Regions from separate parts of the Homo sapiens genome. Here regions 2, 3, 4 and 5 are each linked to region 1. The links come from fine-mapping of genetic effects on gene expression. Tissue or cell type: whole blood. Region 1 holds a variant in brackets; each other region holds the start of a gene. Each region is shown on its reference strand, or each on the opposite one.

What was found. PIP is the estimated chance that this variant, and not a neighbour inherited with it, causes the effect.
Region 2: it holds the start of C1orf198, and the variant in region 1 is fine-mapped to the expression of C1orf198 in whole blood (TOPMed, PIP above 0.99).
Region 3: it holds the start of MGAT4B, and the variant in region 1 is fine-mapped to the expression of MGAT4B in whole blood (TOPMed, PIP 0.96).
Region 4: it holds the start of TNNC2, and the variant in region 1 is fine-mapped to the expression of TNNC2 in whole blood (TOPMed, PIP 0.95).
Region 5: it holds the start of C1orf116, and the variant in region 1 is fine-mapped to the expression of C1orf116 in whole blood (TOPMed, PIP above 0.99).

What each region holds. Positions count from the first base shown.
Region 1 is chr9:96,427,902-96,432,572 of GRCh38, forward strand. No RefSeq gene overlaps it. Among named protein-coding and RNA genes, the nearest start is that of ZNF367, 12 kb to the left of the region's middle. The variant A/C (reference allele first, on the strand shown) is at 2,736.
Region 2 is chr1:230,865,850-230,870,520 of GRCh38, forward strand. C1orf198 (chromosome 1 open reading frame 198) reads right to left here and starts at 2,672. Exons shown (of 4, transcript NM_032800.3): 1 at 2,331-2,672. The coding sequence starts at 2,663. RefSeq lists a silencer at 2,601-2,820 and an enhancer at 2,644-3,235.
Region 3 is chr5:179,804,107-179,808,777 of GRCh38, forward strand. MGAT4B (alpha-1,3-mannosyl-glycoprotein 4-beta-N-acetylglucosaminyltransferase B) reads right to left here and starts at 2,760. Exons shown (of 15, transcript NM_014275.5): 1 at 2,381-2,760. The coding sequence starts at 2,477. It also overlaps a transcript of SQSTM1 not described here. RefSeq lists silencers at 1,615-2,034, 2,045-2,174, 2,305-2,374, 2,605-3,164, 3,335-3,504 and an enhancer at 1,916-2,577.
Region 4 is chr20:45,825,219-45,829,889 of GRCh38, forward strand. It overlaps TNNC2 (troponin C2, fast skeletal type), which reads right to left and starts at 2,094. Exons shown (of 6, transcript NM_003279.3): 1 at 2,028-2,094. The coding sequence starts at 2,030.
Region 5 is chr1:207,030,440-207,035,110 of GRCh38, forward strand. It overlaps C1orf116 (chromosome 1 open reading frame 116), which reads right to left and starts at 2,317. Exons shown (of 4, transcript NM_023938.6): 1 at 2,140-2,317. It also overlaps a transcript of PFKFB2 not described here.

The DNA.
Region 1 (4,671 bases):
TCAGGGCACCCAAGATAGCATCACCAGATACCTGCATCAGTGGCTAAACAACAGCAGCTTCTGGTCTCTACCTATGATACTACCTTTTGATTGAAAGGCTGTACACTGTATCTTCTTTTTTTCAGTGAAAAAAAAAAACATCAGTAGCAGTTAAAGGATCAGGAAGTGGGTCCCATAGGGGTGAGGAGGCATCTGCTGGATGGCTTTTGAAAATGTTTCATTCAGCATCATCTGCCTCATTAACAACAGTTTCTGTCTTTTTTTTTTTTTTTTGAAATGGAATTTCACTCTTGTTGCCCTGGCTGGAGTGCAATGGCGCGATCTTGGCTCACTGCAACCTCCACCTCCCAGGTTCAAGCAATTCTCCTGCCTCAGCCTCCTGAGTAGCTAGGATTACAGGCATGTGCCACCACGCCTGTCTAATTTTGTATTTTTAGTAGAGACGGGGTCTCACCATGTTGGTCAGACTGGTCTCGAACTCCCAGCCTCAGGTGATCCACCCGCCTCGGCTTCCCAAAGTGCTGGGATTGCAGGCATGAGCCATCACCCCGGCCAGTTTCTGTCTTAGACGTCTCTCTTGATTTTTATGAATTGACATGATTTCTTGTTTGGTTGTGAATGCACACTGCCCTAGTTTTCAATAAGCCCATCATACATTTTCACCAGGTCCTCTATAGGTGCTTTTTCTATAGTGTTAACATCATCATCTTCACTGTCACTGTTATCACGATCACCTTGGTTCAGAACCAACTCAGATATTTCACCCTCAGTTAGTGAAGGAACAAGGCTCATTAAAAACGTCTTGAATATCCACTTCTTCCAGCTCTGACACAGACTACATATATATATGTATATATATGTATATATGTATATATGTATATATGTACATATGTATATATGTATATATGTACATATGTATATGTGTATATATGTATATATATGTATATGTGTATATATGTATATGTATGTATATTGTGTATATATGTGTATATATGTATATATATGTATATATATGTATATATGTATATATATGCATATACGTATATATGTATATATGTATATATGTATATATATGTATATATGTATATATATGTATATATGTATATATACGTATATATGTATATATGTATATATACGTATATATGTATATATGTATATATACGTATATATGTATATATGTATATATGTGTATATACGTATATATGTATATGTATGTATATGTGTGTATATATGTGTATATATGTATATATGTATATATGTGTATATATGTATATATGTATATATGTATGTGTGTGTATATATGTATATATGTATATGTATGTATATGTGTGTATATATGTATATGTATGTATATATGTGTATATATGTATGTATATATGTATATATGTATGTATATATGTATATATGTGTATATATATACACACACACACACACATATATATATATATATATTTTTTTTTTTTTGAGACGGAGTCATGCTCTGTCGCCCAAGCCGGAGTGCAGTGGAGCGATCTCGGCTCACTGCAACCTCCACCTCCTGGGTTCAAGCGATTCTCCTGCCTCAGCCTCCCAGGTAGCTGAGACTACAGGCATGTGCCACCACGCCCAGCTAATTTTTTTGTATTTTTAGTAGAGATGGGGTTTCACCATGTTGGCCAGGCTGGTCTCGAACTCCTGACCTCAGGCGATCCACCTGCCTTGGCCTCCCAAAGTGCTGGGATTACAGGCGTGAGCCACCGCACCCAGCCGACACAAACATTTTTGATGAAAATTTCAGCTGGGGAATGAGCAAAATCGGTATCAAGGAATAACAAAATCTTACAGTCCTCATTCAGTTTAGTTTCTTTGCAGTGAGCACATGCCACTAGTACAAAATGTTTGTGAAAACAATTAGAAAAGCTGTCCCTGATGATCCCTGCCTTTTTGTTAGCAGAACAATGGACTGGTAAAAAATTCACTCCTTGAAAACAGCAAGCTTTTTCACCTGCCTGTCACAGTAAGTTTACATTTATGTGTGCCTGCTGCATGAGCACATTGCAACATAGTTATTCTGTCCTTGGCATCCCTAATTCCTGTAGGGGCTGTCTCACCAGCTGTAGTCAATGTATTTCTGGGGTAATAACAGCAAAACAATAATGTTTCATCAGCATTATAGACTTGTTCTGCTGTCAGATTTTCATCAGCAATGACCTTGGCACACTAGTTAATTTCTCTGCTGCTTCATGATCACCACGAATCTTTAAAAAAATTTAATGCTGTGTCTTCTCTTAAATCTGCACCTAGCCTGCTGAATATTCACAGTTCCCTTCAATATTCAGTTCATCGTGATAGATCTTTGCTTGTCTCATGATAAGCAGGCCATTAAGTGGCATATGCTCACTGCAATGCTAATGGATGCACTCTTTCAATACATGATCAAGATCTTCATTTTCAGCTTTGCAGTGTTTTTCTATTTTTCATTAACTTCTATCCATCACTTTTAGCACAGAAGTTCAACAGTTTATCCATCTGTTTCTTCAGGTCACATATGGTGGTCATTCCAACACCATACTGTTCTGTAAGGCATTTCACACTTCCACCGCCATCCAATTTTTCCAACAGCATGACTTTCTGTGCTATAGATAAACATAAGTGCTTCTTTTTTTTCTTATCACTGTTACCCATAGGGGTATCTTTTTGGCATTTCCAACAATATCTTTAAACACAGAGCAGAGAATAAGCAAAAAAAAAAAAAA[A/C]CACAGTGAGTAATGCACATAGGTCTTGGCCCTATATGGGGCATTGTGGGGAACCTGCCATTGGTGCATCCAGCTGCATATGTACAATTTTATTACCCTTTACAGGCACGCTTGTTGGGGGGTAATCTGGGCATGCACAGAAAAGATATACCACAGCTGAAAGGGGCCGGGAGGGTCTTTTTTTCTGTTGGGGATGCTGAATAAACCATGTTGTGCAACTGCATTTTGACTGCAACCTATCACATGAGGTCAGGTGTGGAATGTTCCATTTCTGGCATCATGTGAGCACTCGAAAAGTTTCAGATTTTGGAGCATTTTCAAGTTTGGATTTTCAGGTTAGGGATGCTCAACCTGTAATTGATTTCTGTCATCTAATCATAGTAGTTAACACCTCCAATACAATGTTGAAAAGTAGTGGATAGTGAACATCCTTGCCTTATTTCCAATGCTAGAATTCCCTATAGTGTATCCCCATTAAATAAGAAACTAATTTTAGGAATAACATTCAATTATGTTAAGAACGTATTTTTTAATTCCTATCTTCCTGAGTGCTTTATGACGAATGTATGTGGATTTTTTTCCAAAGGCTTTCTCTGCTTTTAAGGAGGTAATAATATTATCTTTTTTCTTTTTTCGAGACGGAGTCTCGCTCTGTCGCCCAGGCTGGAGTGCAGTGGCTCAATCTCGGCTCACTGCCAGCTCTGCCTCCCGGGTTCATGCCATTCTCCTGCCTCAGCCTCCCGAGTAGCTGGGACTACAGGCGCCCACCACCAGGCCTGGCTAATTTTTTGTATTTTTAGTAGAGACGGGGTTTCACCGTGTTAGCAGGATGGTCTTGATCGTGATCCGCCTGTCTTGGCCTCCAAAAGTGCTGGGATTACAGTCGTGAGGCACCGCGCCCGACTGTTTTTTTTTTTGTTTTTTTTTTTTTTTTTTTTTTTTGAGAGGAGTCTTGCTCTGTCTCCCAGGCTGGACTGCAGTGGTGCAATCTCGGCTTACTGCAAGCTCCGCCTCCCGGGTTCACGCCATTCTCCCGCCTCAGCCTCCCGGGTAGCTGGGACTACAGGCGCCCACCACCACACCTGGCTAAATTTTTGTATTTTTAGTAGAAACGGGGTTTTAGTAGTTTTAGTAGAGACAGGGTTTCACCGTATTAGCCAGGATGGTCTCGATCTCCTGACCTCGTGATCTGCCCGCCTCAGCCTCCCAAAGTGCTGGGATTACAGGTGTGAGCCACCATGCCCGGCCAGCCAGGCTGGTCTTGAACTCCTGACCTCAGGTGATCCGCCTGCCTCAGCCTCCCAAAGTTCTAGGATTACAGGCTTGAGCCACAGTGCCTGGCCTATATAATTTTTAAAAAGCAATATGGACAAAAGAATAAGACCCAGAGGGGATACACACACATACACACACAAAAGGGTAGTCTCTAATTGGTAGGTGTCTAGTACATAGGGTCTATGGTTCAATCTGTCCCTTTTGGTATAAATTAGCATGCCAAGATACAGTTTGAGTCAGCCAATCCTCAAGAATTACATTTTTATCTGAGGTACATTTTAGAATCTAATGTAGTGTCATTAGACACATGTGCAAATTTTTTTTTTTTTGAGATGGAGTCTTGCTCTGTCACCCAAGCTGAAGTGCAAGGCATGAGCTCGGCTCACTGCAACCTTTGCCTCTTGGATTCAAGCCATTCTCCTGCCTCAGCCTCCTGAGTAGCTGGGATTACAGGTGTGCGCCACCACGTCCAGATAATATTTTGTATTTTTAGTAGAGACTTCTACTAAAGGCTTCACCATGTTAGCCAGGCTGGTCTTGAACTCCTGACCTCAAGAGATCTGTCTACCTTGGCCTCCAAAAGTGCTGGGATTACAGGCATGAGCCACTGTGCCGGGCCAAGATGTGCACGTATTTTGTGTGCATACTGTTCACCATCCCC
Region 2 (4,671 bases), not on the chromosome of region 1:
CTGACTTAAAACGTTGCTATGTGAGATAGAAAAACATTACTGGCAATGGGGGAGAGGATACCATTCAAAGAAATAGGCAGTGTCCTTCAGGGCAGCGGAAAGGGCTGTGGAGGCCCCAGGACCACATCAGAAGACTGATCAAGTGGGAAGAGACATTGGGCCCCACTCTATCTAGTTTACAGTCCTTTAGGACAAACTTGGGGTCACCTATTTGGGGGTACCTCTGTTCAGCAGCCTATCCTGTCCTTATCCATCATCCCTGTGCCCAGGAGCTGGCCCTCCTCCATGAATGATCTCCTGGGGACAACAATGAGACAACTGACTCCACTTTGGTGCCTACCTCTGGCGCAGTCCAGGGGAATTTAAATTCCCTACTGCTATTAACCTACGCAGACACTGCAGGCAAAAATGTACCCTGGGCCATGTTCCTATGTACCTCTGTTAAAATTCAGGGTCTATCTGCCCCTCTGCTGTCTGAGCTGAGGCTGGTCAGAGGCATTTCAGAACATGCTCTCAGCTGGTTTTGCAAAGCTGAGATTCAATTCTCCTGAGTTACTCCTGGAAGGACATACAGGCACCACAGCACGGCACAGTTCCACTTGCTTTTAAATCACATTGAGTTTACAAATTCAGAAACGGCTCAGTCTGGCACCAGATGAGGAATGAGAATAAAAAATTAACTTGGCCACATTCTTCCTTGTCAGTAATACTGGGCTCTTCTATGACATGGGCTTTTTCATCATGAGTAGGCGTGTAGATATTCTTAGCTGGACACCAAGCTAAGGGAAAATGACAGTCACTCTCCAACATTTGTAAGTACTTAGAAGTTTACTTCCTGTCATATTTATTCGTGACTCTTCCAAAGGAGTGCTGCCTGCTTTTTCATCCCCCAAATCTGGGCGCAAACACTGCACACAAGTCTTTATAAATACGCCTATTTTCCCACTGAAAATGTTTCAGCTCTAGGAATACATTTTAAAACCTATATTTTCCCCTCCCCAGTTTACCACACCCTTGTTTTTCCTGGCAAAGCCATCAGAATTTGAAGTCCAGTAGAGAATTTCCTTTTGATTCCATCAGAATAAAGAAACACTGGCAGCATCCTTCAGTCATTTCACTTTTCCCTCACATTAAAGTGGGTTTATGACCATGAACACTTCGTATTAATAAATGTCTCAGCACACCCAAGCCTGAAAATCTGATCTAAACCTCCTTAACTTGAATTCCATCCACAATCCACAACTTCCTCGGAAAAAATCTCTCCCAGCTTCTCCTTCCTCTAGCCCAAGAAACAGCCTTAACAGCGAGCGATTTCATTCCTACACTCTTTGCTCAGCTTGACTTTGCTCCTCACGGCAAAAGTTGAGTTTGAAACGCCAAAGAGTCACAGTGCAAATTCTAATGGCACCAAACAGGCTTCGGTTAAACACATTTCTAAGAAAAAGAAGACCAAGTTTCTGAACCCTACAGAAGATTCAGGCGTTTGTGACTAAGTGTGGGTCATCCCTGAGCTTTTTCTGGAACAGATTCAGCGTTTCTACCTTCACAAATGACTGTCCCTCTAGCAGTCTGGACAGTGTCTAGATCTGAGACCTAAACATGCCCTGTTATGTGGCCAAGACTTACTGGAGCTCATTTAAACTTATCGTCCCTTAGTTTTTTGGTGGAAAACAGGGCCACCATGCTCACCCTTAAAACATACGCTGGGCATTGTGCTCACTTGGAAAACATCTTAGGGTGATGGATGGGTTTCCCTCCTTATCTTGGAAGACACCTTTTCTTCCTTGTTACCTGGCTTGGCAATTTTACTTTCCCCATACATCTCATCACAAGTATTCATGTTAGTATATATCATTTGCTCAGTCCCTTCACGGGCAGGCACGGGGTGGCGTTATTACCCCCGTTTTACACAGTGGAAACTGAGGCTCTAAGAAGTTAATTGACCCACCGCCATACAGGTAGTAAGTAGCAGAGCTGGATTAAAACCCAGGCTTGTCTGGTTTAAAATTGCTTGTTGTTTCCACTTTGGTCAGCCTCGCTTACGACAGCTCCGGGAGAAGTCTCTGGAGTCCGTGCGAGCCGGCGGATCAGGTCTAGATGGAGGTTCTTTAACGACCCACCTCTCGGCGATCTCTTAACCAACTCCCCCAGCGGAGCCCCCACCCCCCGAACTTCGGCTCTGGGGCTCCCCTCCCACCCACTGCCATTCCTGCCTTTTCTTTTCCAGCCCCTACCAGCTGGGGCGGCCTCACGCCGGCAGGTGCCCACCGGGCCGGGGCGCCTCGGGGCGCCGGGAGGGGAAGAGGGTCCGCGGCCAGGCCCGCACCTACCTCGTCCCCGAAGCGCACCACCTTCTGGCCCGTGGGCCCGCGCAAGCCGGGGAAGCGCGTGAGCTCCTCCGAGTCCCCGGGGTCTCGGGGCGCCGGGGCGCGCGGCCCCACCAGGCACCGGTCGATGATCTCGTCCTGCTGCGCGGGCGGCAGCCGCGCCCACTCGGGCCCGTACTTCTCGCGGATCTTCTCCTTGTCCTGCATGATCTTCCTGGCCATGGGGCTCAGCGACGAGAAGTAAGTGAAGCGCTTTCGCTCCCGGTCGTCCAGAGGCCGGTTCCCGCTCATGACCGCCGAGCGCGAAGCCGCGATCGCCGCCGCCATGGACGCCATGCCCGGCCTGCCCGCCGCTCCCGGCCCGCGCCCCGCCCCTCGCTGTGCCCGCCCTCGCCCCGCCCCGCGCCACCCGGAGCCCCGCCCCCTCCGGGAACCCCGCCCTGCACCGCCGCGTACCCGGGTCTCCAAGCCAACCCAGCTCCCCAAGCCCCGGGACCCCGGCCCTCCGTGGCCCCCTCCCCGGGAGCTCCTCCCTCCGGGCCCCCCCCCGCCACCCCCTCGCGGACCCCACGAGTCCCCCTTTACGCCTCCATAGTGGATTACCGCGGTGCCCGCAGGTTTCGGGCTCCCCTTACCCGGCTCAGGTGGTAGCCGGCGTGTCCCTGAGTCCGCGCCCGGCGCTCTGAGAGGGTGGCCGTGGTTAATTCCCGGTAGTGACCGCCATAGCGCCACGTGGCCACTGCTTGACAAAGGAAACTTTTTTCAACCTCCAGTGAGCCTAAGAAAGCCCCAGCATTTCAGGCCAAGCCGCTGGCTGCCTGGCTTCTGTTTTTACTCCTTTCCTTCTGTCCCTTTCTGGGACGAGCCACACCTTCTCTGCTTTCTCTGGGCCCGTCCAGGACGCTGGGCCCGGGGCCTGGCGCGGTGAGCTGCAGATAGCCGGGGGCGCAGGGCAGCCCGGAGGCTGGAGGGCGACCTGGAAGGCTGGACCGGTTCGGGGCATCTGGTGCTCAAGGAAAGTCAGCTCCCGCCGCCCCTCGGGGCCAGGTGGGTGCATGAAGTACCCGGTGGCCCAGGTGCCTTTCCCCAACCCAAGGAGCTCAGAACTCTTGGCAGTTCGACGTTTGCAAACAAACCAAAGAGGAGCAGAAAGTTTTCAGACTCAGAGGCGACATCCCAACAGGTAGGGGGCCAGGGTTTGTAATTTTGAGGTGTGTCCCAGACAGACCACAAAATTAAAATTATAGCGAGCCCCCACTTCCCCCAAGCCCCTCTCTCCATCTGACTGATTTTAACAAGACTAACAGGACTCAGGTGAGAATTGTGTCCACTCGTAAAATAAAAAAACAAAAACAAAAACCAGCATTTCAGCTGTTATCCAGGGTCTTTGCCTGGATAGTTCTGAACACAAAAGTAGAAATAACTTGCAAAGTCCTATTTTAAATGTGAGATGGCCTCATCTTCCGGCCCAGAAATCCTCAGAATATTTTTGGAATGTCATGAATGTGGCAGGCTCTACAGTTAAAGACATTATTATCAACAATGTTCACAACATAATATATTGAAGCAGGGAAAGGCAAGCACCACCAAATATAGTCTCCACAGTAAGTGGCGGATTATTTATGAGACCGGAAGTTTAAGGACAGTTTTTTGGAGTATGATCTTCTGTTTGAGTTGATGCTAGAGAAGCTCAATACATTGACCTGAATCCCACTGATTTCTCTCCTCTAATCCTTGTTTAATAATATAGGTAATGTTTAAAGATATATTCTTGAAATTAATTAACATCCCCAGGCTTGCTTTGATATTCACATAAGAAGCTGTCCGTACCCTTAGAAACTTGGTCTCATGCTGTTTTCAAAGCAGTTGTGGAAATAATTGTTGCTTTCAAAAAAAAAAAAACCACAACCCCATGAGGTGTTTTGGGTCTGGCAATAATTGATTGTCAAAGAAGTTTTCAAGATAATAAAAGCGTGAGATAATTCAGGGACATTGGCCAAAGTATGTAAAGTCCATGATCTGGATGATAAGGGGCTAACTGAAAGAAAAATTCTTCCAGATTATAAGAAGAAACTCAGGGGAATTAAAGTATGGCTCTAACAGATGACTTGGCTGAAATTAGAAACTTTTTTTTTTACATATATCTTTATCTACTCCTGGAGGGAATAAAAATAGCCAAACTCCGGCCGGGCACGGTGGCTCACGCCTATAATCCCAACAGTTTGGGAGGCCGAGGCGGGTGGATCATGAGGTCAGGAGATCGAGACCACCCTGCCTAACATGGTGAAACCCCGTCTCTACTAAAAATACAAAAATTAGCTGGGCGTGGTGGCACGTGCCTGTA
Region 3 (4,671 bases), not on the chromosome of region 1:
GGCGAGTCATTAGGACATCCTGGGGCCCACAAACCACAGTTCCCCCTGCTTCCCTCTTGGTTGGGGAAAGATTAAAGAGCCAAGCTGGGGCACAACCTTTGTGCCTTGTACTCAGGGAAAAGGGACAGGCTCAGAGGGGCATAGGCAGATATCAGGCCCGTTAACGGTCTGCTGTCACCATGCATGTGTGTGGCAGGTGTCTGCCTCCTCTCCAGACCCTGCAACCTCCTAGGAGTAAGGGTGTCCATCATTGCTGAAGTCCAGGCCTGGGGAGGCGGACAGCCTGAAGGCTGGGAGCGCTGCATGGCTGAGACCCCGGGCTGCCCCCAAGGGTCTGCCTCCCTGGGCAGATCCTCAGCAGGTGCTTGACCGAGGGCCACAGTTTGAGCGCTGGCAGAGCTGCTGCACGGGCTAGATAGGAAATTGGGCCCCAAACCCTTCTCCAGGGTCCATTTTGCGTTGGTCTAAGAGGCCGTCCTGGGCTTGACCTTGCGTTTCCAGGATGATGCCCACACCTGCTGCCCTTCCTCTCTGGTTCCCTGCCCACCTCCTTCCTTCCCTGCAGATTCCACTTCCTGGGTCCTTCCCTCAAGTTCCTGGACCCCCGCTGGCTGCAAAGTGGAGGCCAGGTTCCAATCTGGCCTCCGACTGGCTACGTCTGGTTTCACCAGGGGTTTAAGACAGATTTTCTACATGTGACAACGAGATGGGTTCACATAAGAGCCCAGATTCCCAGCTTCTCTTGAGGCCTCCAAAGACCTGGTACTACTGGGTCACCACAGAAACAGTGACAGCCCCTCGACAAGGGAGGCCTATGTCACCCCATACTCATACCTCACAGGATCCTTAGGCTTCTATCCCCTAGGGGCTGGGCTCGTGAATCTAAGTGCTCCCCTTCTTTGCTCTCCTGTTCCCCAGGCCCTCAGAGAGCCAGCCTCCTGGATGCCCCCCAGACACAGTGGGTGCCATGGAGCCAGTGCCTCTCCCTCACTCTGCTGTCCTGGAGCCTGGCTCCCTGTGGTAAGCCAGGCTTGCAGAGGTGGCTCCTGACATCAATCCGCGGGCATGTGGCTGCTGCGGGAGGCACACACTGGCTCAGGACAAAGGGCAAGGGCTCACGGCTCTACCCACGACTCAAAGAGCATGCCCCAGCCCTTCAGATATGGCCCCACCTAGGCCTTCATGCCAGTGTGCTTTTATAGTCACCCTGCCAAGGACCCAGAATGTCCTTCCCCAGGTGACACACCCTACCTACAGAGAATTCTGCCCCAGCCATGCCTGCCCTTGATAATATACCCCGCCAGCACGGCCTCTGCCCAGCCATCCCTCCCGTGTCAGGCAGGCTCCCCGCAGAGTCCCTGGGTGATGCCTCTCTGGCCCTGGAGCCCCAAGGCCAGCCCAGGCCTCTGCTCTGGCAGAACAAGTGCGGCAGGCGGGCGTGCTGGCAGAGCTCGGCGTGGGTAGATGGAGCTCGGAGGGTCCGGAAGGGTCCAGGTTCCCTCGCCCTCCTCCGCAGCCTCTCTGGGATGGCGCTCCGGGACAGGGAAACAGGGAAGCAGGTGGCGGGGAGGCCGAGGGGCAGCTGGACTCAGCCCGCTTAGGCCTCCAGCAGGCAGGCAGGCAGGAGGCCACTCTCCCGGAACCTCCAGGCCGGGGGAAGAGCGCCTCCGAGGGCTCAGGCCCTACTCGGCCCCACCATCGCCAAGACCGGCCAGCGGGGCGGCGCGGGGGGATCGGCCCGCACCCTCCGCCTGCAAGAGCGCTGGGCGCACGCGGAGGGCGGGGGCCAGCCCGGGAAGCTCGGGGTGCGGAGGACGGGCTGGGGCCGCACGGGAGCGCAGGGCAGCAGGGGCCGGGCTGCCTCAGGACGCCTCCCTCCCTCCCTCCCTCCCTCCCACAGGCCGGATGCTGCCGACGCGTTCTGGGCGCCGAAGGGAGTCCCAGGACCGGGTGTCACGCCGGGGTCGCCCAGGCCGGCGCGGGGCAGCAGGCAGCAGGGTGGGGGGGTGCCCTCGCGCCTGTGTCCCTCACGCCGCCCCAGCTCCTGCCCAGGTGGCTGTGGCTGGCGTTCCGGGACCTCTGTGACCTTGGGTCTCTGCCCCTCTCCGAGAACCCCACGGGTCCCCAGCTCAGCGTCGGGACAGCTGCGCCCGCGGAGTCCGGTCCGGAGCACCCACGGGCGCGGCCCGGGCCCGAGGAGAACGCCGCGGCTCCAGCAGCAAACAAGTGGGGGAGGGTGGGAGGGGCGTCCTCGCGCCGCCCGGGCGGGGAAGGGGCGCCTGCGTCGGCTTCCGGCCGCCTTCCGCGGCCACCGCCGGGCCCGCTCCCGCCGCCGACGCCCAGGTGCGCCAGGTGCGGGCCGGGCGGGGGTCGCGCTCACCTTTCTGGCCGCTGAGTGCCGCGTACCAGGACAGCGAGAGGAAGGCGCACAGGCAGAAGAGCAGCAGCGTCAGGAAGGTGCCATTGCGGAGCCTCATCTCCTCGGGTGCGCGGCGGGCGCCCGCGGGGCCGAGGCTGCATGGCCCGGGGGACCGGGGCCGGGGCGCAGGGGTCGGAAGGCGGCGGCGGCGGCGGCAGGGGCCCCGGCCCCGGGTCGGGGAGGGGCGGGGGGCCCGGGGCCGGGCGGGGACCGGGCCAGGGAGCGCGCCGGCCGCCCCTCAGGGCGCAAGCTTTGTGCCCTGTACTCAGGGAAGAGGAACAGGCTCAGAAGGGCAGAGGCAGGTATCAGGCTCACTGCAGATATCAGGGGCGCGGGACACTGGCGGCCTCGCCTCCGCGGCAGGGCCGGGCCGGGCCGGGCTGGGCTGGGCTGGGCGGCGAGAGCCGCGGCCCGGCCTGGATCTGGGGCCTGGATCTGGGGCCGCCGCGGAGTCGACGGCGCAGGGCGGGGCGGCCCGGATTTAAAGGGGCCGCAGCACCGCCGTCGCCGGCGCCGCGAGGGGGTGGGGTGGGGGCCGGCGGCCGGGATCCCGATCGGCTCCCGCAGCCCCGCGTGGGCTCGTGCGAGTCGGCCTCAGGTAAGGCTGGAGTGGGAGTGCAGGTCGACCGCAGCCGGGGCGGGGGGCGGGCGGCGGGGGCGGCGCTCCGGGACCCCGGTACCCTTCTCAGCAACATCTCCTCCGCGCGCGGACCCCGACCCCATTCGCACGTTCTCGGGGCTCTTTCCCGGGCGTGAGGGGCTCTGGGTGGCGCGGGGGACTGGGCGGTTGAAGCCGGGAGCGACCGCTGCCTTCGCTGCCGCCCAGGGCGCTTCCCCGCTCAGGAGCTTCCTCTGGGCCTCTGGACGGAGGCGCGCAGGGGCCCGGGAGGCGGGAACGATGGGCCTTTCTAGGCGGTATCAGGGCCGATGCTCGTGGATGCAGAGCAGTGACCAGCCCAGAACCGTACCGGCTTCCCGGGGCAGGGGCGGCCCGAGAGCGCCGCTAACGGGAGCAACGGGCCCTGCCCCCGGTGGTGTAGGGGCCACCTCGCCCCGCCCAGCCCAGCCCGATATTGATGGGGGCCCACGCCTTCATTGTTTTTTTGTTGTTGTTGTTTTTTGTTGTTTTTTGTTTGTTTGTTTTTGAGACGGAGTCTCGCTCTGTTGCCCAGGCTGCAGTGCAGTGGCGCAATCTCGGCTCACTGCACCCTCCGCCTCCCGGGTTCAAGCGATTCCCCTGCCCCAGCCTCCCGAGTAGCTGGGACTACAGGCGGCCGCCACCACACCTGGCTAATTTTTGTATTTTTAGTAGACACGAGGTTTCACCGTATTGGCCAGGCTGGTCTCGAACTCCTGACCTTGTGATCCGCCCGCCTCGGCCTCACAAAGTGCTGGGATTACAGGCGTGAGCCACCACGCACGGCCCATTTGCGTTCTAATTTCAGGCGTTCCTCAATCCTCTGTGGAACCAGGAAGGGCGCAAATTATAAAGGGACTGGCCCAGCGCCGCCTCTGGGCAGGCTTTGGGCAGCGCCTGGCCCGCTGCCGGCTTGGACCTCCCAGACCTAGGGGCCCGGTTCCTGGTGGAGGCTGCAGGGACCTCTGCCCCACCCGCCCGGGGGAGGCCCGAGGGGCTGGACTCAGACTGAGATTGAATGCGGCTTTGTCTTCCTAGTTCAGCCCCGGCCCACACCTGGGGCTGAGTGGAATCGGGAGCTTCGAGGGGTCTGGACAGAGAGATTGATGCCAAGAAGGGGGTGGCCGAGCCAGAGGTTGAAGTGGGCTGGATCCTGAGGCCCCCTGTTAAAGGAGAGGGCTCCCCACTCAGTGCTCCTGGAACTTTCCGAACTAGAGACTGGGACTTATAGGAGCCTTCTAGAGGAAACTGTCGTGTTTTCACAGGTGTCTTCTATTTGTGGCAAAGGATAATGGCTTTTCACTTAGGTTGTGACATAAAGGGCCTTAGAAATTGTTAATGAGTTACTTAATGTTAAAACTTAGTCACCCAGAGGCCGGGCGCGGTGGCTCATGCCTGTAATCCCAGCACTTTGTGAGGCCGAGGCAGGCGAATCACGAGGTCAGGAGATCGAGACCATCCTGGCTAACACGGTGAAACCCCGTCTCTACTAAAAAATACAAAAAATTAGCCGGGTGTGGTGGCTCATGCCTGTAATCCCAGCACTCTGAGAGGCTAAGGCAGGAGGATCATTTGAGCTCATCAGTTCAAGACCAGCCTGGGCAACATAGTGACA
Region 4 (4,671 bases), not on the chromosome of region 1:
CTGCCACCTCGGCCTCCCAAAGTGCTAGGATTACAGGCTTGAGCCACTGTGCCCAGCTTCTGACCCCAGTTTTTGTTTTTGCTTTTTGTTTTTGTGACAGTCTCGCCCTGTCGCCCAGGCTGGAGTGCAATGGCGTGATCTCGGCTCACTGCAACCTCCACCTCCTGGGTTCAAGCGATTCTCCTCCCTCAGCCTCTCGAGTAGCTGGGATTACAGGCATGCGCCAACACGCCCAGCTAATTTTTGTATTTTTAGTAGAGACGAGGTTTTACCATGTTGGCCAGGCTGGTCTTGAACTCCTCACATCAGGTGATCCGCCCACCTCGGCTTCCCAAAGTGCTGGGATTACAGGCGTGAGCCACCATGCCCGGCCTGACCCCAGTTTTTTTTGTTTGTTTGTTTTGTTTTGTTTTGAGACGGAGTTTTGCTCTTGTTGCCTAGGCTGCAGTGTAATGGCACGATCTCAGCTCGCCACAACCGCAACCCCCACCTCCGGGGTTCAAGCGATTCTTCTCCCTCAGCCTCCCGAGTAGCTGGGATTACAGGCATGCACCACAACGCCCGGCTAATTTTGTATTTTTAGTAGAGATGAGGTTTCTCCATGTTGGTCAGGCTGGTCTCGAACCCCCTACCTTAGGCGATCTGCCTGCCTCAGCTTCCCAAAGTGATGGGATTACAGGCGTGAGCCACCGCGCGCAGCCTGTGACCCCAGTTTTGAGCAAAAGAGAGGAGACAACAAGTTAAGCCCAAGGCCTTCTCACTTGTCAATTGAAGGCCAAGTCGGGAACCCCCCCCACCCCCCAGTGACCTTAGGCACGTCAATTAGCGTGCCTTCATCTTTTCTCTGTAGCTTTTCAGGGATGAGATATCAGGGGTGTGAAAGGGCTTTGTAAAGGGCTAGCACCATTCCAGCACTATTTTCCAGTTTTCTGCAGCTCCTAATGGTGCCCGGTACTTTAATAGTTGCTCAATAAAATGTTTGTTCTCAAATAAATAATAATGCAACACAAAGTTATTGAGTACTTGCTGCATGTCAGGCCACAGATCAGGCACTGGAACCACAAAGAAGAGATAAAAGACACATCATCCCGCCCCTCAGAGAACTGGCAGAGTCGGAGGCTGTCAGCTTCCTTCTTAGGATTCAGTCATTGGAGAAAAGGCCCCTCATGGGGGGCCGAATGTGATGGAGGCCTTGACATGAAAGTGAGATTTCTGCAGGGGTTTCCACGTCATATCCAAGCCAGGCCATCTGGGTCAGAGGCTTTGGATTGAGGCTGGCAGTGAGGACAGGGTGAGGCTTCCAAGGAGCTCTTCAGCCAGCTGGCCACCAGTGCTCCTCCTTCTCCCCCTCCTTCCTCTCCTCCTCTTTCCCTATGCCAGGAGGGCAGGCTATTTTTAGTCAGGCATGGGCAACAGCAGCTGGCCTCTGGGATCTAGTTACTCCTTGAAGTGAAGTGGGGAGGGGGATCTCAGACCAAAACAACAGCTCCAAATCAGAAGCCCTCTCTAGGAGAGCGGAGTCTCTCTAACTCTGGTCTGTCATCTTCTGCCCCTTCCCATCATCCTCAGGGCTCCCAGAGCCCTGCATCTGAGCAGGCCCCACGCCCTGCCGGCCTCCCGTCTTCTGGAGGAGGCTTTCTTCTCTCCATGATGATAGGAGGGTTTGGCCAGGCTTCTGGCTCACCCCTGCCACTGGCCTGCTGGGTGACTCACTCTGACCCCTCAGAGTCCCCACTGTGTGAAGGAAACAAGCTAAGAGCTCTTCACAGGTCTATGAATGACACTGCTGGAAGTTTCCAGAAGTGAGTAGGCAGTCAGCAAGCCTTAAGGATCAATCTCTGGAATATCCCAGCCCTCCCCTTTCAAGAAAAGTCAAAGGCCTTCCTCCAAGACACCTGGGTTCCAGGAACCTCCATGCTCCAACCTCAAACATCCAAGTTACTGCCCCACAGAGCACCCAGGCCTGGCCTGAAAGGGGTCCAGAGTGCTCCCGTGAGTAAAGGCACAAAGTCCCCTCTTGTCCTTACCATGGTTGCTGGTGACCGGGACTCCTCTGTTGCAGGTCGCCTCCTTTGCACTCCACCACCCAAAGATGACCTGGCCTGCTCTAGCCCCCGGGATTTGTAGGGGCACCCTCCCCTCCCACCTCCCTGCTCCCCAGCACTGGAGACCCTGCCCAATCAGATCCTGGGGTCAGCGAGTCCCACCCCTCCCACAGTCTGAACCCATTACCTAATTTAGCCAAGGGCCCTTGCAGAGAAATTTAAGCCTCCAAGCAGGTGGCAGGCCTTGACGTCCTAGATTCTTGTGAGGAAGGCCTGCCCTGTTCCACTGCCTTGGAGTCCCCCCGACCGAGGAAGCACACTGGCTCCAAGATGGTAAGGATGATCAGAGTAGTAAAGGGTGAGGCAGCATGGTAAAATGGGGAGAGTACAAGCCTTGAAGTCCAAAACCCAAGATCCAAGGCCAGCCTCTGCGAGTTGTGTGACCTTGGGCCGGTAGCAGTGCCTCTCTGAGCCATTTCTTCATCTGTGGGATTGGACCTGTCTGTGGGGTCTCCCTCACAGAGAGACCATGGTAAATGGGAACCCGGGTATAAGTCACCTAGCTTGTGCTGGGTACACAGCGTTGGTGCTTGGCAAGAGGAATGTCCCGTCTTTGAACCATGGTAAGGGGCAGGGGATAGGAGGAGAAAGTGACAGGTAGGCCACTGTTTACTGAACCCCATGACGTGCCACACACTGTGCTAAGCATTTTAACATGATCTCATCTAGTGCTCCTCCTATGAGGTAGCAACGATTATCCCCACTTGACTGCAGAGCTTTGTAAATTATAAAGGTCTATACTCACTCTGTCACCAAGGCTGATGTGCAGTGGTGCTATTATAGCTCACTGCAGCCTCTATCTCCTGGGCTCAAGTGATCCTCCCACTTCAGCCTCCCGAGTAGCTGGGACTAGAGGTGCACCACCACCCCTGGCTTTTTTTTTTTTTGTATTTTTATAGAGATGGGGTTTCACCATGTTGCCCAGGCTGGTCTCGAACTCCTAGGCTCAGGGGATCCTTCCACCTTGGTTTCCCAAAGTGCTAGAATTACAGTCATGAGGCACCATGCCCACCCATGTTGATGATTCTTATTATTAATCCTGACTGGAGGGAAGTTGGGACAGACAGTCCTTGGGGCACCTGTCCAGATGGAAAAATGTATGGAGGGATGGAGGAGAGGAGGATGTGCATTTGGAGGAGAAATAATCATTGAAAGCAAAGATCCTTCTCTGAAAGTTACCTTCTCCAGGGAAAGGGTGTTTGGATTCACTTTTTTTGAAGTAAGGAGTAGGCAGGGGAAGGTTCTTTAAGTGGTAAAAGGACAGCTGGCCCCTTCCTAGAGCTCAGTGAAGAAATCTGGTCATCTGGGGAGTAAAGGGGTGGGCAGACCAAGTCCAGAGGGAGCCCAACCTGAGAATCCACAAGGTGCAGGCTGGGCACTGGGGAGTAGGCAAGGCTTGTAGACAGTGGCTACGTGGACAGAAAGAGCACCAAGACAACCGATAGCAGGCTCTGGGGCCAGGAAAGGGGGGCTGGACACCAAGGAATGCAGATGGACAGTGGCAACTGGGCTGCCCCCTTCCCCTATATATAGACATTCCCAAGGAAAGCTCAGCAGGGCTGGGCCAAGCTAAATAAGGCCTCCCCCAGGCAGGCAGGGTGCCAAAGGGTGAGGGAGACCCATGGGATTCCAATTTAGTTTTTATTGTTTTTTGGTTTTTTGGGGTTTTGTTTTTGAGACAGACTCTCACTCTGTCACCCAGGCTGGAATGCAGTGGCACAATCTCGGCTCACTGCACCCTCCGCCTCCTAGGTTCAAGTGATTCTCATGCCTCAGCCTTCTGAGTAGCTAGGATTACAGGCACATACCACTACGCCCAGCTAATTTTTGTTTTTGGTTTTTTTTTTTTTTTTTTTTTGAGACAGAGTTTTGCTCTTGTTGCCCAGGCTGGAGTACAATGGTGCAATCTCGGCTCACCACAACCTCCGCCTCTTGGGTTCAAGCAATTCTCCTGCCTCAGCCTCCCGAGTAGCCGGAATTACAGGCATGAGCCACCATGCCCGGCTAATTTTGTATTTTTAGTAGAGACAGGGTTTCTCCATGTTGGTCAAGCTGGTCTCAAACTCCCAACCTCAGGTGATCCGCCCACCTCAGCCTCCCAAAGCACTGGGATTACAGGTGTGAGCTACCACACCCGGCAAATTTTTTACTTTTTGTAGAGACAAGGTTTCATCGACCGGGCACGGTGGCTCAGGCCTGTAATCCCACCACTTTGGGAGGCTGAGATGGGCGGATCACGAGGTCAGGAGATCGAGACCATCCTGGCTAACACAGTGAAACCCCATCTCTACTAAAAATACAAAAAAATTAGCCGGGCATGGTGGTGGGCGCCTGTAGTCCCAGCTACTTGGGAGGCTGAGGCTGAGGCAGGAGAATGGTGTGAACCTGGGAGGCAGAGCTTGCAGTGAGCCGAGATCACACCACTGCACTCCAGCCTGGGCAACAGAGCAAGACCCCGTCTCAAAAAAAAAAAAAGTTTCATCATGTTGGCCAGGCTGGTCTCAAACTCCTGACCTCAAGTGATCCGCCTGCCTCAGCCTCCTAAAGTGCTAGGATTACAGGCATG
Region 5 (4,671 bases), not on the chromosome of region 1:
TGCTTCAGCTTTATACTTCCAGACCAGTGTATTGCCCCAACAGCAGATATTTCTACAGTAAAGAAATGACACCAACTGCCAAGGAAGATCATGTCTTTAGGGATTACATAATCCCTGCACAGAGGAATCTGAACCTGAAACCAAAGCTGAGCGAGGCGCTGTCACCTCATCTCCATACCTAGTTTTCTGACCTAAAGAATCTTAATGGTGAAAGCTGCATTTCCTTTCACCGACTTCACAACCTTGAACCTTGGGGCTCTTTCAGGGCAGCCATCGAAACCCTGATAAGAAGACTGAGAAACAAACAAAACACTCAAGGTGAGAGTTTGGTATCTTAACCCTTGACCTCTTTGGGAACTTAACGGGAGGAGGGAATGGGTTAAGAAATATGCAGCACCTATAGTCAGGGCCACCCATCCAAAGACACATTAAATATTAACTACACCACTGACTAAAATACTAAATACTGCCAAGCCTTGGAGGAGAGGAAATAAAGAACAGTTCAAGTTCTGGCATCTGGAGATGGTGGGGTGGGGAGAGGGCTCCAGCTCCATTCCAGGTTGGCTTGTCTGTACCTTCTAATCAGACCCAGGTCCCTCTCATCCTCCTCCCACGAACCCCCCACATGTCCTCCAAGAGCTTTGCCTCTCTGCCTACTAGTCAAAGAGGTTTCCTGTCTTTCAATCCAGGTGTCTTTGCTTCTTGTTGACTACCCAGAAATGTGCCTTGGGCTGGAAAATATCCTAAGAAAAATAGCAGAATGACTAAAACTTGCACAGTTTGCATATCTGTCTCCATGAACACATGGGCAAGTTTCTGTGTGTGTTTAGGCAACATTATCATCTTCCCTTTCACCAGTGTGTTTGAGGGAAGGAGCAGGTAGAAATACCCTCTGCATAGCAGAGCTTTGTTAGACACTGCCAGTGGTCTTTATTCCTAAATTCACCATCTAGGGCAGCCCTCAGTCTGTGAGTGTGGGGTGTTGGCTCTGTGGTGTGAGGTGAGCTCAAGCCTAAATCTCCAGTTGCCAGGACTGGAAAACCCATATATTCACTCAGGGCTGCGTGTGCCAGGCCCTTGAGCCTGGCACTGAGGGCTTCCCACTTCCCTCTTCTCTGCAGCAGGAGGAAAAGAGTCAAAGTTAGGGACCAAAGGGTTAAACCCCCCAAGATGGATAATGGAGAGGCAACTTGCTACTCTGACTCGACTCCTACATCTGCCTTCCTTCTGCAGGTAAATCTGCCACACAAACTGCCAACTGGGACACCTGCAGGAAAACAAACAAAGCCACCACCCTGGTCTGCTTCTCTGTCTGTGGACTCTGCCACACTACCTTGGCTTGAGCCCCACTTGGAACTCTAACTAGACTTGACATGCAGCCACGAAATATTCATGTGGGTGAGGCTCGGCACAGCCAGGTAGCTTTCTGTTTGCCAGTCTCTGTGTCTATTAACAGGCTGAGTCAGAAAGTTAATTGAGTAGAATCCAAATAAACTTGACTTTGCAGCTAGATTATCCATGGGTTTTCCAAAGATGAGCTGGTAGCTGAAGTTTTCTCCATGTGCCCCAACCTCATATCCCTTTACAAACAACCTAGTACAGCTCATGCCTAACACACCTGTACACAGAGAGCTCCATTATCACATGAGCATGATCAAACACACACACACATTGCACCCATTATTTAAATAAAGATCGACACCGAGTTGGTAAAGCCACGGGAGAATTTCCTGTTACAGTCGCTATGGAAAACCAAGATACTCTCCCCCATTTTGACTCCCTCTATTTCAACTGTTCTTTTCTAAAATCACAACTCAATTTCAATTGTTCAGAGATGGAAATTTCCAAAACAAATCTATTTTCTTTTTCTTGTTGTTTGCACAATATGCCTATCCAACCTAAAGGGATAAATGAAAAAGAAGGTGCCTCCCAGCCCCAGTCTCCACAAAAACACTACAATCTCAAGTTGCTACCAACCTGATCTGATCCCAGAATGGACTCAGAGAATTGAGGAACAGAGAGGAAATCTCCCTAGCTGGGGTATAGAGGGACACCTCCCCTCCCCTGTAGCTCTGATTTCCCATGAAACCCCTTCCTATTGCTATAGGATAAGCAATAGTTGGTTAGTGATTAACTCACCTCCACTGGGTTGGGGGCTGAAGAGAGAAAAGAAATACCCTTTTGTTTCAAAGGGCAGAGATGGAGACAGAGGCTGCTTCCCCTGCCTCCTACTGTTTTCTTCTCCTTTTGAGCTCCTCCTGACTTACCTAGATAGGTAAATGCTTCATCTGTGCTGCCTGGCCCCCACCCTGCCACTGACTCAGCCAATCCTAGCCTCCCCTCCCTACCTCTCATTCCAGCTGTTTCCTCAGGGAGGGAATGGGAGGGGAATGAGCAGGGTGGTGCTGTTCCCTCTTAGCCAATCATCTCCTACCCTCCCCTTTCCTGTTTAGAGCTAATAAAGAGCTCTTTAAAAAAGGAGGGCTGGAAGGAGGAGGAGCCGGTTTGGGCTGAGACTGGAAGGACAGGTGGCAGGGAGGGAGTAGGCAGAGATAGTATATATATTTAATGTTGATATAAAGGAACGCAGACAGTCCTCTGGGCAGTGTGCTTTTCCATAGGTCTATGTGAAACAGGTTTTTCATCTAGAACTACCTTCTTCCGCTTGGAGCTTAGTTTTCCCCTGAATTCTCTAGGCTAAACTCATTTGTGTTCAGTTTTGCTGCTAGCTTTTCTAGATGTTGAAAGTCACTTTCTTCCCCAAGCCTAATCCTAGCTCATAAGCCTAGCAATTCCATTCATGTCCACTGAAGAAGGTGTCCCCAGGCTAGGGATGCTGTAGTTGGGCCAGTCTCGCCCCAGTGCTTGCCAACAATCTCCTTGGCCTAATTTATTTCTGGGGGAAATAAAACCATTCATCCCCTAAGAGGTCCGTGTCCTGATGAAAGAGTGACTGGACAGCTTGAAAGGAGAGAGCATGCACTCTGTCATTTGGTCCTCTGCTCTCTTTTGGCTGTTCATGGAAGGTGGCAATACATATTATGAAATAAAAACAAAACAAACTACCAACCAGTTTAGCAACTCTTGTCTCCTTTCATGGACTGATACTTGGCATTCGTAGGGAGAAGAGAGTAGGTAGAAGAATCTACTATTTTTGGGAAGAAATTTCCCACCAGGTACAGAGACCACTCTTAACAGATATGATTTTTGCCTGGAAGCTGGTTTTTCCTACAGGTAGATTATCCTTGATAGGTATCAGGATTTGAGGTATTCCACTTACTAGCATTAAAAGGTCAGGGAGAAAATTTAAAATCAATGTACACAATAATTGCCAAAATGTATTAAGCTCTTGCTATTTGCTAGGTATTGTGCTGAGCATTTTCATGTATCTTTTAATTTAGTCTTTAACTTAAAAAAGTAGGCATTTGTTAATATCTAAATTTTACAGGGAGGTTAAAAATCTTTTTCAAGGCCATGTAGCTAGGAAGAGGCAGGGCAGAGATTTTAATTCAGGCAGTATAACATCAAGGTTGCTATGAATCAGCATAATGCCAATCCGCCTCTATTTTGGAAGGAATCTCAAGTGGGAATCATGAAATACACAGATAATTTGCAAGTGTAATTCTAGCTATTAGATTCGTCCTTTTCTGTTTCATTTCCTACTTAAAGCTATTAATATGTTTTATAACAAGACGACACATGGCTTTCATCTTTTCTCTTTCTGTGATCATGGTTGGATAGGAAATAAAAAGGGCAGTGATCCTGGGGCCAAGGTAAAGATGAAGTGGAGCAGGACTAATGGATAGGAAGGAGGTTGGAGGAAGCCTGGGATAACCCAGTACCCTATCAGCAGCCTATGGATATCACAGCTGAATGAGCACTTCGGGCTATGACCTCTTTCCCTGGTGTGTCATTCAAACATATATGATGTCATAATACTAACAAAACAGGAAGGGCATCTCCAAATCAGCAGTTCAGTGCAACCAGAGTCACACCCATGGATGAAGTCAATGAAGTTGATCCAGCTCCATAGGTGTGTGATTTGAACATTTGCTAAAAAAATGAATTGACTTATGAGAATTAACTTCCAAGAGGATAGTAGGCAACAGTCTTATTTGTGAACAGACACAGTTTTTCAGTTATAATAAAATTAGGATAACTAGGAGGAACCCCTATCTTTTACCAGGTAGAAGCAGGGACATAGACAAAAATCATCTTTCCCTTCCTCCCTTTCCTCTCAAAAACTTTTTCTTTTTGTAAATTATGAAATATTTCAGATACACTGACATAACAAACATAACCGTACCTAACATCCAGTTCAGGAAATAAAACATAAACATCACAGTCGAAGTTACTTACAAGCCTTGAGCCTCCCCTCCCTGCAAACACATATATGTCCTAGCTGAAATAAATCACTATTTCAAATTTTCTTTTTTCCATTCTCCATGTACTTAAATGTTTTCCCTGGAATTCATATTGTTTTTGCTTTGTTTTATTTTTGCTTAGAAATATACCAAGTCTCTAACATTCCAAGAGAGTTGGAAAGGAGGCCTGGACTACAGAAAAGGGAGGATTTCCAAAGTCAGTCAAAAGCCTGAAAGAATAAGACTTCCTGGTTGATATAGGTCATCATTTGAGGGGGTATGTGTGTCATTGCTCTTAGTATGTAAA